Linked DNA regions of Homo sapiens. The protein of the gene in region 2 purifies or fractionates together with the protein of the main gene of each other region. This does not show direct contact. Each region holds a gene or a part of one and is shown on either strand. Other genes may lie near its edges.

Evidence for each region.
Region 1: the proteins of PEDS1 (region 2) and NCR3LG1 purify together in Homo sapiens (co-immunoprecipitation; one large-scale study listed by IntAct). This does not show direct contact.

What each region holds. Positions count from the first base shown.
Region 1 is NC_000011.10:17,358,175-17,362,003, reverse strand, and holds part of NCR3LG1 (natural cytotoxicity triggering receptor 3 ligand 1 precursor), read right to left. Parts: intron 1-3,829. UniProt on the Homo sapiens protein: Triggers NCR3-dependent natural killer cell activation.
Region 2 is NC_000020.11:50,117,533-50,120,346, reverse strand, and holds the end of PEDS1 (plasmanylethanolamine desaturase 1), read left to right. Parts: 3' UTR 1-2,093; downstream 2,094-2,814. UniProt on the Homo sapiens protein: Plasmanylethanolamine desaturase involved in plasmalogen biogenesis in the endoplasmic reticulum membrane.

The DNA.
Region 1 (3,829 bases), on a different chromosome or scaffold from region 2:
GCATAACAGGACAAGAAAAGGAAATAAAAGGTATAAAGTTAGAATGGAAGAAATATGAGGCCTGGTACAGTGGCTCACACAATGTAATCCCAGCACTTTGGGAGGCCAAGGCAGGGGGATCACTTGAGCTCAGGAGTTCAAAACCAGCCTGGGCAACATAGTGAGACCTCACCTCTGTAAAAAATAAAATAAAATAATGGAAGAAATAAAACTGTATTTTTAACAGACAGCCTGATTTATGTAGAAAAATCTCAAGACTTGGCCAAAAACAAAAACAAAAACAAAAACAAAAAAATCCCTAGAATGAATAAGTGATTAAAGCAAGTTGCAGGATACAAAGTTAATAAGCAAAAATCAATTATTTGACAGGAATGAACAATTGAGCAACTGGAATTTGAAATTAAAAATATAATACCATTGGCCAGGTGTGGTGGCTCACATCTGTAATCCCAGCACTTTGGGAGGCCGAAGCTGGTGGATCATTTGAGGTCAGGTGTTTGAGACCAGCCTGGCCAACTTGGTGACCCGTCTCTACTAAAAATACAAAAATTAGCCAGGCGTGGTGGCGCATGCCCGTAATCCCAGCTACTCGGGAGGCTGAGGTAGGAGAATTGCTTGAACCCAGGAGGCAGAGGTTGCAATGAGCTGAGATTGTACCACTGCACTCCAGCCTGGGCAACACAGCGAGACTCTGTCTCAAAAAAAAAAAAAAAATGTCAATTTTTCCCAACTTGATCTCTAGATTCAATGCAATCCCAGTCAAAATCCCGGAAAGCCATTTTGCAGATATCAACAGATTCTCAAATTTGTATGGAAAGAAAAAACCCAGATAGCTAACACTATACTGAAGAAAGGCAACAAAAATGAGGGACTAACACTACCTGACTTCCAGACTTACTACTAAAATACAATAATCAAGATAGTGTGGTACTGGGGAAAGAAGAGGGAGATCAATGAAACTGAATAGGGCAGGGTGTGGTGGCTCACACCTATAATCCCAACACTTTGGGAGGCTGAGACGGGGGAGATCACTCGAGCTCAGAAGTTCCAGACCAGCCTGGGCTACACGGCGAAACTCTATCTCTACAAAAATACAAAAATTGGCTGGGAGCGGTGGCGCGAGCCTGTAGCACAAGCTACTCGGAAAGCTGAGATGGTAGGATTGCCAGGGCCCAGGAGGCAGAGGCTGCAGTGAGCCAAGATTGTGTCACTGTACTCCAGCCTGTATTAAAAGAAAAAAAGAAAAAGAAAAGAAACTGAATAGAAAGCCCAGAAATGGACCCACACAAATATATTCAACTGATCTTTGACAAAGAAGCAAAGGCAATTCAATGGAGAAAGGACAGTCTTTTCAACAAATGATGCTGGAACAATTAGGTGTTCATATGCAAAAAAAAAAAAAATACATATAGAATATAGACACAAACCTTACACTTTTCACAAAAATTAAAGTAAACTGCATCATAGACCTAAATGTCAATGGTAAAACTATAAACCTTCTAGATGATAACACAGGAGAAAATCTAGGTAGCCTTGGGTTTGGTGATGAGCTTTAGGACACAATGTTAAGAGCATGATCCATGAAAGAAAAATGTAGTAAGTTCGACTTTTTAAAATTAAGAACTTCTGCTCTACAAAAGACATTGTTAAGAGAATGAAAAGACAAGCCACAGACTGTGAGAAAATATCTGTGAGACATCTATCTGATAAAGGCTTGTATCCAGAATGTACAAAGGACTCTTAAAACACAACAATTTAAAAAATGAGCCCAGTTAAAAAATAGGCAAACAATCTGAACAAACATCTCATCAAAGAAGACATACAATTCCCAGTACTTTGGGAGGCCGAGACACGCAGATCATTTGAGCCCAGGAGTTCAAGACCAGCCTGGGCAACACAGCAAAACCCTATCTCTACAAAAAATACAAAAATTAGCCAGGCATGGTGATGTGCACCTGTAGTCCTAGCTACTTGGGAGGCTGAAGCCTGGGAGAATCACCTGAGCCTGGGAAGTGAGCTGTAATCACACCACTGCACTCCAGCCTGGACAACCAATGAACACACAAAAAAAGAAGACATACGAATGGCAAGTAAGAATATGAAAAGATGTCCAACATTATATCATTAGGGAACTGCTAATTAAAACAACAAATGAGATACCACTATATACTTATTAAAATGGCTAAAATCTGGGCTGGGTATGGTGGTTCATGCCTGTAATCCCAGTACTTTGGGAAGCTGAGGTGGGCAGATCATCTGAGGTCAGGAGTTCAAGACCAGCCTGGCCAACATGGTGAGACCCCATCTCTACTAAAAATACAAAAATTAGCCAGGCGTGGTGGCGGGCACCTGTAATCCTAGTTACCTGGGAGGCTAAGGCAGGAGAATCGCTTAAACCTGGGAGGTGGAGGTTGCAGTAAGCCAAGGTCACACCACTGCACTCCGGCCTGGGCAACAGAGCAAGACTGTCTCAAAAAAAAAATCTCAAAAAAAAAAAAAAAAGGAATTGCCAAAAAGCACTGTACTCTAGTAGATAAAGTTGTTTCTTATCGGAGTACAGGTTAATAATTAATTCAATAAACAGAGGATGGTGGGTACAGGTTTCTCACTGTTGGAGTGGGAGTTTACAGATGAGCAAGAGAAGGAAACTAGAATGATCTATGTGGTGATGGACTAAAGTTGGAGACATCAGTAAGAACAAATGTTTAATGTAATATAGGTACAGATGGTTACACATAGAAATATTTGTAGATATGTGTATATGCAGAGGTTAGTATGCATACATGTATTTCTTTGCTCTGTTGGCTGAGAGGGTCTAGAATCAATGATACCTCAGCAGCAAAAAGTACACTTACTGTCCAGGTCTTGGTTTCTAAGATCACTTTCCAATAAAAGGAACCAAGGTTTCTTGGAGTATTGGTTGGTTCTAGGACTAGAACCAGGAAATATACAAGAGAGGAAATATACAAGATGAGTCTGGAGCATCTTATAGTGCCAAAATGTAAAAAGTGCTTAAAATCAAACAAAATTCTTGATATGAATTTGCCAAAAATTAAATAAAACAAAAAATAAAATAATAAAACAAAACAAAATCTTACAATGATTGGGGTATGTCAATGTGACACAAGAGCCAAGTGAATGAGCTCCCCGTGGCCAAAGCTGGAAAAATTTGAGAAAAAATAAAGTAGTATTGCATTATAACACAAAGTATAAAATAAATATCCTTGAGTCCTTATTGATATCAATGATTGAATAAAGTCATAAATGGGAGAAAAGAGATAAATCTCCCATGCAGAAGAATTCTTAAAAAAATTATGTAGATACTCCACCTCCAAGGAGGAAGAACATAAGTAACCCCCAACCTTAAGTGTGGGCTGCACAGAGTGACTTCCTTTCAAAGAGTACAGTATGAAAATAGGAGGAAGAGTAACTTTTCAGTAGAGAAACCAGACAAACACTACTTCAACTAGATGGTCAAGGTCAACATCAACAGTCATAAGTCATGTGATTTGATGTGATGAAAATGGCAGTTTACCTCTGCGATGTTCCTCCAAAAACCCATAACCCCAAGTCCAATTATGAGGAAAACAGCAGACAAATCCTAACTTAGTGACATCCTGCAATATACCTGACCAATACCCTCACCAAACTGTCAAGGACATCAAAAATAAGGTCTAAGAAATTGTCACAGCAAAAAGGAGCCTAAGAACATATAACAATTAAATGCAATGTGGTATTCTGACGGGATCCTGGAGCAGGAAAAGGACATTAGGTAAAAACTAAGGAAATATGAATAAATTACACACTTTCATTATAGTAAAATGTCAAT
Region 2 (2,814 bases):
GGCCAAATCCAGCCACTTGCTTTTCTATAGCTCAGAAGCTTTTGTGGGTTGTTTGTTTGTTTGTTTGTTTGTTTGTTTTTTAGAGACAGGGTCTTGCTCTGTTGTCCAGGCTGGAGTGCAGTGGCACAATCACAGCTCACTGTAACCTCAGACTCCTGGGCTCAAGTGATCCTCCCACCTCAGCCTCCTGAGTAGCTAGGACTACAGATGGACACCACCACATCCAGCTAATTTTTTTTTTTTTTTAGAGATGGGGTCTCGCTATGTTGCCCAGGGTAGTCTCAAACTCCTGGCCTCAAGTGATCCTCCCACCTCAACCTCCTGAAGCACTGGGATTACAGGTGTGAGCCACCATGTCAGCCACGAGCATTTTTTAAATGGCTGGGGGAGGGGGAACAATATTTCCTAACACAGAAAATTCAAATTCCAGTTTGTAAAGCTGAATTGGCACACAGCCATGCCCCTCATTTACATATTGTCCGAGGCTGCTTTTGCACTGCAGTGGCAGAATTGAGTCGTTGCATCGGAGACCACGTGGTCCACACAGCCTAAAATATTTACGATCTGGCCCTTTACAGAGAAAAGTTACCAACCTCTCCCTAGTCTAGAATGAAGGGTAAATTGCTCCCCATTCATGTTCCCTCAGGTACTCAGTTCCCCTCCTTAGAGGCCATCATTTTGACAAGACACTTGCAATGCCTTATGTAGGCAGAGGGGTATGTCTGCCCCACTCCTTTTCACACAATATGTAGGATATTATGCACACAGTTCTGCACCTTGCCTTTTTTCACTTAATATATTTTGGAGATAGTGTTATCATTAATGTTCACAAACCATTATTATTTTTTACAGCTGCATAGTGTTCCACCTTCAGGATGGAATGGACTTGACTTTTTTTTTTTTTTTTTTTTGAGACAAAGTCTTGCTCTATTACCTGGGCTAGAGTGCAGTGGTGCAATCCCAGCTCACTACAGCCTCTGCCTCCTGGGCTCAAGCTATCCTCTCTCAGCCTCCCATCCCAAGTAGTTGGGACTACAGGTGCATGCCACCATGCTGAGCTAATTTTTTTTTATTATTTTTAGAGACGGGGGTCTTGCTTTGTTGCCCAGACTCGTCTCAAACTCCTGTGCTCAAGCAATCCTCCTGCCTCAGACTCCCAAACTGCTGGGATTACAGGCTTGAACCACGAGTGTGTTTTAAATTTTGATAGTGCATACCAAATTGTCTTCCAGAGGCCATGCCGGTTTAAGTTCACAAGTTTTCAGAGTCCCTGTTTCCTCACACCCTTGCCAACACAGCGTGTTATCAAATGTTTTGTTCTTTGCCAATCTGATAGGTGGTTTTAATTTGCATTCCTCTTACTGTATTTCATTGATTCTAAGATGTCACTGATTCTAAGATGCATCCTGATTTCAGAAGTTCACATGTAAAAATGTGGCTGGGTGTGGTAGCTCACGCCTGTAATCCCAGCACTTTGGGCGGATCACGAGGTCAGGAATTCAAGACCAGCCTGGCCAACATAGTGAAACCCCGTCTCTACCAAAAATACAAAAGAAATAATTAGCTGGGTGTGGTGGCGGGTGCCTGTAATCCCAGCTACTTGGGAGGCTGAGGCAGGAGAATTGCTTGAACCCAGGAGGCGGAGGTTGCAGTGAACTGAGATCGCGCCACTGAACTCCAGCCTGGGCGACACAGCGAGACTCTGTCTCAAAAAAAAAACAAAAAAAAAGTAAAAACGTATAGCTTCAAATCACTGAAATACAATATGTTTTGTGAGATTGGGTATCTTACTGTGAGTTTAAAATGCATTTGCATTTCCTCATCTGTTCATGTCCTTTTCCTATTTTTCTTGGAAGGGAGGGTAGCATTGGTTAAGAGTGTAGGGTTCAAATCCCAGTTCTGCCACTTACAAGCTTGTGACTTTGGGCAAGTTACTTAACCGTTCTGTGTCTCAGTTTCCTCACCTGCAAAATGGGAATAATAATGGTACCTACCTCATAGGATAGGTGTGAAGATTAAATACATTATTATATGCAAAATACCATGTTCCTGGAATATGGCAAATGCTCAATAAATATTTGCTGTAACTGTCATCTTTGAGTTATTTTTTCTTAATGAGTTTCAAGGGCTCTTTATACGTTAAGGAAACATCCTTTTTGTCCCCCCACCTCCCTGCCCCAAACCCCAGTTTTCATTCCTTTTTCCTTGACCACAGAAGTAACATATAATACAAAATTAAGACATTACAAAAATTGTATCAGAAGAAGCCAATGGAAACAACTTAGATGTCCATTGATAGAGTGAGTTAATGAAGTACACCAAGACCCCCTGCCCACCCATCCCCACCGCTTTTTGACTGTATATTTCGGAAACTACATCAGACATTAAATAAGATGTCTCAGCGCCATGGCTAGACACACCTCAGGGAGCCATGACTCCACATAAATGCCATAGAATTTCACTAGCAAATGCATCACACATCCTGTTTGTTTGTTTGTTTGTTTGTTTGTTTGTTTTTAGATGGAGTTTCGCTTTGTTGCCCAACCTGGAGTGCAATGCTGCAGCAACCTCTGCCTCCCAGGTTCAAGTGATTCTCCTGCCTCAGCCTCCCGGGTAGCTGGGATTACAGGCATGAGCCACCATGCTCGGCTAATTTTTCTATTTTCAGTAGAGATGGGGTTTCACCATGTTGGCCAGGCTGGTCTCGAATTCCTGACCTCAGGTGATCCACCGGCCTTGGCCTCCCTAAGTGCTGGGATTACAGGTGTGAGCCACCATGCCCGGCCTCATCACACACTCTGTTAACCACACATC